Regions from separate parts of the Homo sapiens genome. Here all the other regions are reported to be linked to region 1. The links are microRNA targets in miRTarBase. Many come from high-throughput screens and were not tested one by one. Region 1 holds a microRNA gene; each other region holds the end of a gene's coding sequence.

Region 1 (3,000 bases):
GAGGTGGGGGCTGGCTATGGGGACAGCGCAGGCGCAGTGGGATCCTCCCACCCCAACCTGAGCGCCAGTCCCACCTTCCCTTGCCCTCGGCCCCCTCAGGCACTTCCCACTCACAGGGCCCCCTCAGGCCTTGGGCCTGGGATCCACCCTCACAGCCAAAGACACTTCCAGAGTCCTCCAGATCAAGCCCTAATATCTCTAGGGGCCGTGGAACCTGCAAGCCCTGTCCAGACATCCAGATTCCCTCCTGGGCCTCAGTCCCTGCCACCTGCAGGCCTGGGTGCGATATCCTCCCCTTAAGGAACTCCATGGCTCCCCCAGGGCTCTGCAAGGCAGCCCCCTCTGAGGTTCCCTGCCCGACGGCCTCAATGGACAACTCAGGGGCGGCAGCAGCTCTGGCCACGCCTTGCGTTTGCCCCTCCAGAGCCTCCCATCTGCCCTTCTCTGTGCTCCAGGAGGCTCATCTCTCTCCTGTGGCTGCTGCCCCTCCAGCCTCTTACCCCAGCTTCCATTTGGGCTGTGCCAATGGAAGGCACCAGCAGAGGGCAGGCGGGGTATTTATTCACAGGGTCCTGCCCTAGAGCTGTAGGGCTGGCTCGCCCCCATACCCCTTCTCTCCCTCCTCCGGCCTCAGCAGGGCAGCAGCTCCCACAGTGCCCAGCCCTGGGTGCCACCCTTGGGCTGTGTCCTGTTTCCTGCCAGGACCCTGCAGGACACACAGGGAGGGCAGGAACCTGCAGGCCGAATGCTTGAGGGTAGGGGAACCAGGCTTCCGGACCTGTGGCTGCTGGCGCTCTGGAGCCAGGTGTCATCGACAGGCGGGGGTACAGGCGTGGACACAGTGCTGGTGCTGATGTCACCGATGATGTTGAGCGCCTCCTTGAGGGCATGGTACATGCGCAGCATGTCGTCCCGCCGCTGTGCCTGGTCAGCCGACTCCTCCATGAGGCTGCTCTGGTCTGCCGAGGAGTATAGGTAGGCCAGCAGCTCGTGGTGGATGAAGGCCTTCGTCTGCGGGCAGGGGTTGGGGAGGGTCAGGCTTGTGTATCACCCCAACCCAGAACCCACAGTGACTGCTGGAAAAACATCTCTCACAGGGCGGGGCCACCCCCAGACTTTTTTGAAAAAGAGTCTTGCTCTGTCACCCAGGCTGGAGTACAGTGGCTCAATTTCAGCTCACTGCAACCTCCGCCTCCCGGGTTCAAGTAATTATCCTGCCTCAGCCTCCCAAGTAGCTAGGACGACAGGCACGTTGACACCATGCTTGGCTAAGTTTTGTAATTTTTTTAGAGATAGGGTTCCACCATGTGGCCCAGGCTGGTTATGAGATTCTTATTCAACTTATTTCTAGTATCTTGCCTCTTCCATTGATGTCTTTTCTCCTGTTTTAGCTTATTTATTTATTTCCTTAACCTTGGCAGAATAATCCTGTTATATCTTTTTTGTTTTTGCTTTTTTTTTTTTGAGACAGTCTCACTGTCGCCCAGGTTGGAGTGCAGTGGTGCAATCTCAGCTCACTGCAACCTCCGCCTCCCGGGTTTATGCCATTCTCCTGCCTCAGTCTCCCAAGTAGCTGGGACTACAGGCGCCTGCCACCACGCCCAGCTTATTTTTTGTATTTTTAGTAGAGACAGGGTTTCACCCTGTTAGCCAGGATGGTCTCGATCTCCTGACCTTATGATCCGCCTGCCTCAGCCTCCCAAAGTGCTGGGATTACAGGCGTGAGCCACCGCGCCCAGCCAATCCTGTTATATCTTTATTTTTTTGTGACAGAGTCTCACTCTGTCACCCAGGCTGCAGTGCAATCTTGGCTCACTGCAACCTGCGTCTCCTGGGTCCAAGCAATTCTTGTGCCTCAACCTCCCAAGTAGCTGGGACTACAGGCGTGCCCCCCAACCCCCGGCTAATTTTTGTATTTTTAGCAGAGATGGGGTTTCACCATATTGGCCAGGCTGGTCTTTAACTCCTGACCTCAGGTGATCCACCCGCCTTGGCCTCCCAAAGTGCTGGGATTACAGGCGTGAGTGAGCCACTGCGCCCGGCTAATCCTGTTACATCTTCCACCTGGCTTCTGTTCAAACACTACTAGTTTCTGTTCATGAATTTTATACATTGTCCTTTCTGGAACCTCCTACTGGATACAGAAGTTTTTCAGTTACTTTTTTTTTTCTTTTTTTTTGAGACAGAGTCTCCCTCTGTCACCAGGCTGGAGTACAGTGGCATGATCTCCGCTCATTGCAAACTCCACCTCCTAGGTTCAAGTGATTCTCCTGCCTCAGCCTCCAGAGTAGCTGGGACTACAGACGCGTGCCACCACGCCCAGCTAATTTTTGTATTTTTAGTAGAGGGGGGTTTCAGCATGTTGGCCAGGATGGTCTCAGTCTCTTGACCTCGTGATGTGCCCGCCTCAGCCTCCCAAAGTGCTGGGATTACAGGCATGAGCCACCACACCTGGCCGTCACAACTTTTTTTTTTTTTAGATAGGGTCTCACTCCTATCACTCAGGCTGGAATGCAGTGGAGCGATCTTTGCTCACCGCAGCCTCGATCTCCTGGGCTCAAGTGATCTTCCTGCCTCAGCTTCCCGAGTAGCTGGGCCGACAGATTTATTATTTTCTTAAATAATAAAATATTTTTATTTTATAAGAGTCTATTAAAAATGGATAATTATGTCCCATCTTTGGCTGCTATAAAACATCATGGAAAACAATAAGCATGTATAAGCTCACTTTGCACGTGGGCAATTGTCTCTCTTAGAGAAGTTCCTAAAAGTAAACTTGCAGGGTCAAAGGATATATGCATTTTAAATTTCATAGCAGAAGAACCGTATATGTCTCCGATCCTATCGGTATATGAGGAAACATACCAGGACACCATGAAACTGTGAACACTGATCACTACTGAGAATGGGAGCAACAGGGTGGGAGGGCATGGCACGTGGGAGGTGTGTGTGTGTTTTAAATAGGGATGGGGTCTCACTATGTTGTCCAGGCTGGTCTTG
Region 2 (3,223 bases), not on the chromosome of region 1:
CACTCCGTATACTGAAACAGAAATAAACGAGGAAGAACTTACAAAGCCAAGACTCTTGTGGGCTCTTTATTTTAATATGAGAGATTCCTCGGGAATCAGCAGAAGCTCGTATAATGGCTTGCCTTCCAATGTTTATGTCTGCTCTGGGCCTGACTGTGGCCTGGGAAATGAGCATGCTGTCAAGCAAGCTGAAACACTTTTCCAGGAGATCTTTCCAACTGAAGAATTCTGCCCTCCACCTCCAAATCCAGAAGACATTATCTTTGATGGTGATGATAAGCAGCCAGAGGCTCCTGGAACCAATAATGTAGTAATGGCCAAACTAGAATCCTCTGAGGAAAGCAAAAACCTAGAAAGCCCAGAGAAGCACCTTCAAAATTAGAAAAGAGCAATCTCGAAATGCTGTTTTGGACCTCCTTCATGGCATCAGAATTTTCTCATTTAAAGGACAGTTTCCCATATGAGTAATTAGAAGTGGTTATATATGATGAATGCTATGCAGATGTTGTCTTTAACTCTCAGACATTCAGCATTGAATATCTTTGTTAACCTATCAATGAGTGATTTATTGATTATTGAACATTTTGTTTAGAATGGGCTATATGACCCAGAATCTTAAAACAGAGTTAGCTTTATTTTAGTATTGGGTATATATGTAAGGGTTCCATATTAGCAACTCAGCTTAAAGGTAATGTATTTGCTAATGATCTTCAGATTTTATCTTTGTCTACAGAACAATTAGTAATACCCAAGTAATATTTTAATTACTTTTGCAGCTGTTACAGTTGCTGCGGCCTGTTCGAATAGTGAAACATACACAAATGGTAAATTATGTGGATCTTTTGCATATAATATAAATGTATAGACATGGTGGTAGGAATAGCAACTAATACAAATGCCAATATGATAATAAAATACATTTGTCTATAATCGTTTAAAGATTAGCTTTGCATGATCCTTTATGCACTGTGAAGGTCTGAAGTTTATAATACTCACTTGACCCTTGTAACTGATGAGGCAATGATGCCACCACAGTATTCTAATTTACAAAAAGAATTGGAGTTCAATTAGTGGTTGTAAAGCTCATTTTGGGGAGGTTGATTGCAAAGGAAATTTGAAAGATAAGATTTATTCTTATTTAATACTTCAGAAAATTTCTGCAGAGCCCTGCCCTGGCACTTAAAATAGCTTCCAATAAGTAACTTAGACCAAAAGGAAAAATGAAGTGCCCCAGGAGAAGATACTTCAGAAGGGCTGTTCTGAAATTCCTAAGGAGGAATTCTTAGGAATTCCTAAGGAGAAACAGAGTGAGGCCTTTTTAACCTGAGATTACAGATACTTATAAAACCCTCTATAAATAGATTACCCAAGGTTTTTCAGTGAGAATGAAACATACCACCTTGTTGGCTCTACCACTTTAATTAATATCACTATAACATAACTGATAGGAATGAATCAAAGGAGGATTTACCATGCCCTTTCGGTTGTGTCCCACTTAACAAATTGTGAAGTAACAATTTTCTGTAATCTCTCTTGCCTCTTAGCTGTTATCCAGAGTATAGAAACTTTTTTTCTCCCAGAGCCACCCAACGTCATAAAACTGGTAGTACTCTAATGGTGAAAACCTGTGGAGCTGTCAGAAGACATGAACTTGCTTTTCCTCTAGTCCAGTTTCCATTCTTCAGTCAGAGTATGATGATCCCTGTGACAGTTTTTGCTCTGAAATAGTATTTATCATGTGTTTGGTACCTAGTATTATGCTTTCTCATGACAGTTTCTCAACAATCCTGTGAGGCAAATTCGCATGTACCCTCTGTATTAGTGTGTTCTCATGCTGTTGATAAAGACACACCTGAGATGGTAATTTGTAAAGAAAAAGGTTTAATGGACTCACAGTTCCATGTGGCTGGGGAGGCCTCACAATCATGGTGGAAGGTGAAAGGCACGTCTTACATGGCGGTGGACAAGAGAGAATGAGAACTAAGTGAAAAGGGAAACCCTTTTAAAACCATCAGATATCGTGAGACTTATTTACTACCATGAGAACAGTATGGGGGAAACAACTCCATGATTCAGTTATCTCCCACCAGGTTCCTCCCACAACACGTGGGAATTATAGGAGCTACAATTCAAGATGAGATTTGAGTGGGAACACAGCCAAACCATATCACCTTCAAAGAAGAAATAAGAGAATTATTAGTAATTTGCTCAGAATCTGGTATGTGGAAGAGCCAACATGGGGACCCAGCCTTTTGTGATTCTAAAACCTTTGATCTTTCTACTAACATTCACTGTTAGAGAGTGTAGGCGCTGCAGGAGAAAGAGAAAGTGCCCACGAAAATTAGTCTAGCATTGCCGGGGGTAAAAAGCACACACTGGTCCTGCAGCTTATTGAATCAGAGAAATGTGAAGATAAGATGAACTAAACAAACATATTTTAGAGCATGGATCTCGAAGCAGAATTTGGCTAAATTTTAACAAAATGTTCTTCAGTAACACATCTCATGATCTGAAGATTGTGTTACAAAAAATATTATCAGGCCAAAATTTGTTCGGAATACACTAATTTTTGCTCCTCTATATGTGAGGAAAATGAGACTAGACAGATTTAAGTAATTGACAACTTACTTAAAGTAGCAAAGTCATGGATTGTATTGACTTTTAAAAATATAGTAAAAGTCATATTTAAACTTTATCCTAAAGTTTAAATCTAACAGAACAACTGAAATACTTGAAATAGACCTATAAAATAGTAATTAAAATGAGAAATACATAAGATGATAAATAAAATGAAGGTGAAGGTATTCCAGATCTACCGAAAAGATTTTCAGTATCACAGATTATTCATAAGAAATTGAGAAAAGGAACAATCAGAAGTTGCAAAAGATGGTATAGCCGAATATAATGGAAATAGGAAAAATTAGTCGAAAATAAAGGTTGATTTAGAAATGAAGAAAATGAATATATTTCTTAATACAAAATAAGTGGGAAATGAGAAGTTATACCAATAAAAAGCATTTAAAAATTTAGGGGATATTGTAACCCAGTATAATTTTCTGACAGGTTGGACTTTGACCCTAATGGACTTACTGGTGAACTTTTTCAAATGTTTAAATAATGTCTATCCATGTATCATGAAGGACAGTATGCTTCAAATTGTCTTTTGAGGCAGACATGTTCTCAGTACTAAAAGACATTTTTAGAAGGATTTTATTCTCAACAG
Region 3 (3,223 bases), not on the chromosome of region 1:
GATCTCGGCTCACTGCAAGCTCCGCCTCCCGGGTCCACGCCATTCTCCTGCCTCAGCCTCTCCGAGTAGCTGGGACTACAGGCGCCCGCCACCACGCCCGGCTAATTTTTTGTATTTTTAGTAGAGACAGGGTTTCACCGTGGTCTTGATCTCCTGACCTCGTGATCTGCCCGCCTTGGCCTCCCAAAGTGCTGGGATTACAAGCGTGAGCCACCACGCCCAGCCACTTGAAGATTTTTCTTGTTTTTGATCACCTTCTCATACTGGCCTTACTCAGCTTAGTAGAGTAAGCACTGAATTGGGTAAGGTAACCTCACTTCCTAACATGTCAGCTTCTTATCTTTTCTTCCTTTACCTAGGTGAGAAGAAATTTGCCTGCCCTGAGTGTCCTAAGCGCTTCATGAGGAGTGACCACCTGTCAAAACATATCAAGACCCACCAGAATAAGAAGGGAGGCCCAGGTGTAGCTCTGAGTGTGGGCACTTTGCCCCTGGACAGTGGGGCAGGTTCAGAAGGCAGTGGCACTGCCACTCCTTCAGCCCTTATTACCACCAATATGGTAGCCATGGAGGCCATCTGTCCAGAGGGCATTGCCCGTCTTGCCAACAGTGGCATCAACGTCATGCAGGTGGCAGATCTGCAGTCCATTAATATCAGTGGCAATGGCTTCTGAGATCAGGCACCCGGGGCCAGAGACATATGGGCCATACCCCTTAACCCCGGGATGCAAGGTAGCATGGGTCCAAGAGACATGGAAGAGAGAGCCATGAAGCATTAAAATGCATGGTGTTGAGAAGAATCAGGAGAGGGATACAAGAGAGGAGATGGGGTCCCGGCACCCATCTGTATCATCAGTGCCTCTTTGAAGGTGGGAAACATTAGTGAAAATTCTGTTGGTGCCACGCTTTGATGAGCATTTGTTTGACCCCAGTTTCTTCTTACACTTCTTACCCCAGCCTACCCTTCCTGCATTTCTCTTCTCAGCTCTTCCATGATGGATTCCCCCCCCTTTCCTAAAGCCATCATGCCTTGATAAATATATATGATCATTGAAATACTTTTTAACAAAAAACAGATTCTATATTATTATATATATATATATATATATAAAGATATATAGAGATGCATTCACAGGGGTTGGCTGGGAGGAGGAAGACCATTCTGTGACCAAAATACCTTGGTCATTTTTTTTATATTGCCTTATTTCCCTATGGCTGAGCCTTGTTGTGACACATCAAGCTTTTCTGTAGATGTTGTCTTGGCTTCCCACCAGCTTAAGCGTTCATATGCTCTGCTTTTAGTTCATATATACATACATAATGTTTTTCCTTTCTTAATTTTGTCTTTTTGTTTGGGATCAGCTTCTTGCACTCCTTCCCTAACTCAACTGTTGCCGTCTCATCTTCTCTCATCTGATCACTTCATGTTTTGTTTTTGTTACTGCCTGGATGAGGCACTTCTGTCAATTTTTTCAGGACCTTAGTTCCAGCAGCAGAATGGAAAAATCCTTGAAGCCCAGGCTGATGCTTGAAGTAACTGTGGAGGGAGTGTTCAAAATACTACTGACGCAGGCACCTTCTTGGCGCTGGAGAGTCAAAGGCATCTCCCTTCATTAGCTGCTCTGAGCATCAAGAATTAGAAGTCTTTCAGTGGAATTGTACAAGAGTCCCTTTGAAGATAATAATCTTGGCTCAGTTTGTATAAACTGTCAAATTTTCAAATAATAGGTAGGGGGCTTTCACTAGGAAAATCATGTGCTCAGAAGAGGAAATGACTCGTAGTCAGGTTCAGGAGTTAGTGGAGTATTTGGACTTTGGTACTGCTGTCTTCCAAGGTAGCTCTAAGTTTTGATGTGTGGGCTTCTGAGTTTATATTCTGAAAGGAAATACACTTCTTTTGAACATCCCCACTAGGTTCTTTTCCATTGTCAATAAGGAGCATCAGCCAGTGAATCTGTTTCAGGTTTCCATTCTGCAGAACTCCTCCAAAGCATGTGCTAGTGGCAAGACAGTGGTTCTTATGATGTTTTCCCTTAACTTTTCCTTGTATGTTCTTGGGTGGTTCCTAAGGGAAAGGGAAGCACATGATCATGGGAATGATAGCCCAGAACAAAAAGAAATCTTGTCTTACCACAGTGTTTTATAGGAGAGATTGGGAGAAATCATCCTGTTTTCTCTGTGACCTGATTTCAGAAGAGACTGATCCAAAAATTATAACGGCAGGGAACCTAGTGCATTTGGCACTGAGATTTAAATGCAACCAGAATTGTCCTCAAGGCCCAGCCATAAAAGCATTGTCTCTCTCGACCTTCTGGTATCTTGTTAGAGAGCTTTTCACTGTGAGGAAGTGTGGAAAAATAGCTCTGTGTGTGTGTGTGTGTGTGTGTGTGTGTGTGTGTGTAATCTGTTAGGTTGGGGATAGGTTTTCTGCTAGCCAATATTAAAAGAGACCTGCAATAAAAAAATTACCCTGATCTGATAGAAAGCAAGTGTTTTTGTATGTGTGGGTGAATGTGTGTTCATGCCCGTATATGTCTACACACAGATGACAAATTATATTTGAAATCGTTGGAAAATAAATTCAGATCAAAATGCCTTTCAGGCCCATTACCTAGAAATCTATCTTAAAACCTGGGTATGTTCCTAAGGTCATTTCTTTGCTTATGCTAAATTAATTACAATTATGAATGGAGGATATTCTACTGTACTTTTTTAAAAAGAAACTATTTTTGTGTTTGAAAGTGAAACCAACATCCAGATCTATAGCAGAGTCCTTATTCTTCTCATAAATCTTTTTACTTTGGCTACAAATAGATGATGGTATGATTCTATTATATATTTTATATAAAATCCATCCAAATTAAGTTTTGGGTAAGTGTGTTGTTTAATCTGAACTATAGTAACTTAATACTCTAAACAATAGTTCACTCCATTTGGTCCTTTCTCCACAGATGTAATTATGTTTTCAACTCAGGAACTATGGCAAGGAACTTTCCCCAGATCAAATTCTATTAACGCTGAGATACAAGTCATCCATGCACAGCCACTATCATACCCTTTATTCTCACTGAAAGGCAGAACTCAGAACCTGTTATTTTATGTCTGTAATCATGTACTTTGGCATCTTTTGGAGGAAAGGGGCAGGATAACTCACTGGAATGTACAGTATTTTGCTAGTGCATTTCAAGGAATGGAATCTTCTCCAGTATGAAATTACCAGATAT
Region 4 (3,223 bases), not on the chromosome of region 1:
ATAGTTTCACATTTGCATTTTTTAAAAGGTGAATCTTCTGAAATTAGACTTCCTGAAGTTACAGATAATGTGTCACTAATTATGGCAAATGTTCTTTCCATGCTTTGAAATGCCAGGAAGACTTGGGTGTTGTAACTGATTAGGAATCAAGCCGGAGCACAGGAAATGCTGTCCAGCGTGTAGTGGCTAGATTGGGCTATGAGGTACAGGGACAGTTCGTATGGTTGCAGTGGACAGATGGTGTAAAAGGAAAGTCTATGCAACACAGCTACTGGAGAAGAAAGATAAATCCAAATTATTGCATGCAATTTAAATTCACTCTAAAGAGACAGCAAACTTTTTTTTTCCTTTAGGAAAGCTTAGAGAAACCAAAATTAGAATACAATTTCCAAAACTGCTTTGCAAAAAACAAAAAAAACTTGTCCCACTTATGGAATTTGTCATCTACTCTGTATTATCTGAGACTTGGCACATTCAAGAACAAAATCATCACATCTCTGATTCACATAGCAATGAAAGATCACACACTAAACACCTTAACAGGCCATGAAAAGATTGTTTTATTCCATGTAAATATTCTCAACAGAGAACACTATCTTTAAATGAAGGATTTACCATTAAGAAATCAACATGTGCACAAAAAGAGTAAAAATTACCAAAAAATTAAAGATTTTTTGGGACAATTCACATGTTCAAAATTTAAGAATGATTTAAACTGTGCAAGTACAAATGTCTTTCCTATTATAATAACCCATATACAGGTTGCACTATTCCACATCAAGGAACTTGCCTCCTACGGAAGCAAATCCTGCTTTTAGAAAAACAAACAGTAGCTTGAAAAGAACAGTTAGTCCTTACAAGAAAGTCTTAAACTTTGCCCTCTGTGGCTGTTAGCCAAAAAACCATAAGCACTTCAGGCTTTGTACAGAAGACAAACACAGCCAGATCACATTTCCTCCTCATTGCTAACCTTTAAAATAAAAATAGCACTAGATTTTAAAACTACTTCATGTAGTCTGTCAGTACTGAATAATGTCACATTATATAAATAACCCTGTAACGAGATTCAATATCTAAACTTTATAGTTTACTAGCTGCAAAGGTAATACACTATATGTCAGCTGTGTAACAGTGGTGACTTGATCTTATGAAGGCAGTAACTTTCACACAATTGTCATTCAGCTTTAGTATAACGGGTAGTATGATTCAAATAACACTGGGAAAAAGTTATTAAAGCAGTCACACAGCTTCTAAAATATTGCTTAAAATTCAATAATACACAAACCATTTCACGTTCTTTCTCCCCTCAAAACAGTAAAGAACCAAATTAATGAAGATTCAGTGGTACAAATAACCCCCCACCTGCCCCATCTCCCTATTACAACACCACTAAGAAATTAGTTAAGATACATGTCATTAACAGAATCACAAATGCGAGGCAGGACACCATGAGCAACAGGAGCACTAACAACAATCATATTTACAAGTATAAACATACAGAAATTCCATTTTACAAGTAAAAGTGCACATAGATCATTACAAAGTTTCACTAAATTTTATCAGGTTCAAACAAAAGCATCACGTGGAAAGAGACTATCATTGTAATTATCAAACATGATCGTCATAACCCAAAATAAAAAGACAATTGGGGGAGGCCCATAAAACTTCTCATAAAACCACTGAGGAAATTAAAATGGACTTGGACATGTCTTTAGTTTGATGCATAAATTTGAAGATGCACCACTGTATATGGTAGAGCTCTAATAGCCACCTACCGAGGCTACATCGGCAGCTGCAGCGGTGCTGCAGAGTTAAAGCAGGTCGCACTGAGCTGACACATAAAGCCCTTTGTGGGATACTGTAGTGGTAGTGTTGGCAATCAACAGATTTAGGCACTCAAGTTTAAGGCAGCATTTGAATGGAAGCAGCTGACTTTTGACAATAGTCCTTTGTCTTGAGGTGGTGAATATCTTCTGTGTTTATTATGCCAGGATTTCAGTGCTGACTAGATTCTTCCCAGACTGAGGTGCTGAAGATGTATCACGTTTCAAAGAGTTCTTTCAACTGGGCTGTAGGCTACAGCAGAGATGTTTTCTTTTTCTTATCATAAATACTTCAGGTTCACAGCTACTTCTTCGTAATGCCAAAACTGGAATGTTTGCAGTGGGGAAGTTATAGCAGTGTGCACAAATACTAAGATGGAAACATTAGTGCTGGAGATGTTTGACAAAGTGATTTGCACTACAAATGTAAAACAAAACAAGGCTTTGACAAGAACAAGGGAATCTAAAGACATGCCTGAAAAATCTAGCTCAATCACGCTAGACATGCAACAGGATGTTAAGCAAGCACGGAGGTGGCGCAGGCAGACACTGACAGATGGCAAGGATCTGACAGATAGTGGGTCTAAAAGCCAATTAAAACAGAGCTGGGAGGGAAGACAATCCTGTTGGGACAGCTAATGTAAGACACATTTTTTGACAGCTCTGCATTCTTTATTGATTAGACAGCAATAAAATAAATAGAAAAATGGTACACTATTGTTGGCTTTTTCTTTTGTGGGAATAACTGTGAACTAGGAACTTAAGGGTTGGTATTATGATTTTTAAAAACAATGTATGGAAATGCTAATGAAGTTAGTAAAAAAAAAATCATGTCTGCATGCACTCATGCAACTTGCTTCTCTCACTCTCTTTGAGCCTGACAACTCTAATACCCTCCCCCAAAAGCAGCTGCATGTAACCTCCTTCAACATCTTGCCCATTTCCTCAGAAACCCTCTTCAGGAACCTGCAGTCCAGGAGGAAAAAGAAAAGAACAATTACTGAAGACCTTTGGTAAAACCAAAAGGGGTGTTCAGTTTAAAGTGCCTGTCCCAAATGTCTCTATCATTTTATAGTCAGCTACCGAAAACACCAGGAAAATTTAAAACATGGGCAAAATTAAAAACCAATCTTACTGCTTCTTCACACTTTACTTCCCCACACCACTGACTCAGGGTGTGGTCACACAACCAGCACTGCACAATCCTTGACTGCACAGTGTTTCCAACAACGCTTGCTGAAACTAATTGGAAAAATTTATCTATCCTAATAACTAATGATTCAGCGGAAATAACAAAATGCCCTAAAGGCGGTACACATATCTTCCTCTAACCCAGATAGTCAAAAAGTTTCTCCTTTAAAAATTAAAATTTGTCAACACTTCCCCTCCATTCAAGGTTT

What was found. Region 1 holds the annotated microRNA hsa-miR-6793-3p (UCCCCAACCCCUGCCCGCAG, at 1,012-1,031, opposite strand). A microRNA usually pairs through its seed, bases 2 to 8, with sites in the 3' UTR of a target mRNA and lowers its output. Matches are read on the target gene's strand: a 7mer-m8 pairs with bases 2 to 8, a 7mer-A1 pairs with bases 2 to 7 and ends in A, and an 8mer does both.
Region 2: the mRNA of CHML is a reported target of hsa-miR-6793-3p. Seed matches in the 3' UTR shown: 7mer-A1 at 1,089-1,095.
Region 3: miRTarBase lists SP1 as a target of hsa-miR-6793-3p. Seed matches in the 3' UTR shown: 8mer at 2,411-2,418.
Region 4: the mRNA of FNBP1L is a reported target of hsa-miR-6793-3p. The part of its 3' UTR that is shown has no 7-base or 8-base seed match.

The regions. Positions count from the first base shown.
Region 1 is chr19:10,827,047-10,830,046 of GRCh38, reverse strand. MIR6793 (microRNA 6793) reads right to left here and starts at 1,074; the gene lies at 1,012-1,074. DNM2 (dynamin 2) reads right to left here. Exons shown (of 21, transcript NM_001005361.3): 19 at 779-1,011.
Region 2 is chr1:241,630,955-241,634,177 of GRCh38, reverse strand. CHML (CHM like Rab escort protein) reads left to right here. Exons shown (of 2, transcript NM_001381853.1): 2 at 1-3,223. The coding sequence ends at 382. All of the region lies in intron 1 of OPN3 (opsin 3), which reads left to right. Among named protein-coding and RNA genes, the nearest start is that of CHML, 7.8 kb to the left of the region's middle.
Region 3 is chr12:53,410,568-53,413,790 of GRCh38, forward strand. It overlaps SP1 (Sp1 transcription factor), which reads left to right. Exons shown (of 6, transcript NM_138473.3): 6 at 360-3,223. The coding sequence ends at 673. Among named protein-coding and RNA genes, the nearest start is that of AMHR2, 12 kb to the right of the region's middle.
Region 4 is chr1:93,551,975-93,555,197 of GRCh38, reverse strand. FNBP1L (formin binding protein 1 like) reads right to left here. Exons shown (of 17, transcript NM_001164473.3): 17 at 537-2,789. The coding sequence ends at 2,782. Among named protein-coding and RNA genes, the nearest start is that of TRC-GCA7-1, 37 kb to the right of the region's middle. RefSeq lists an enhancer at 1,656-2,184 and a silencer at 2,232-2,526.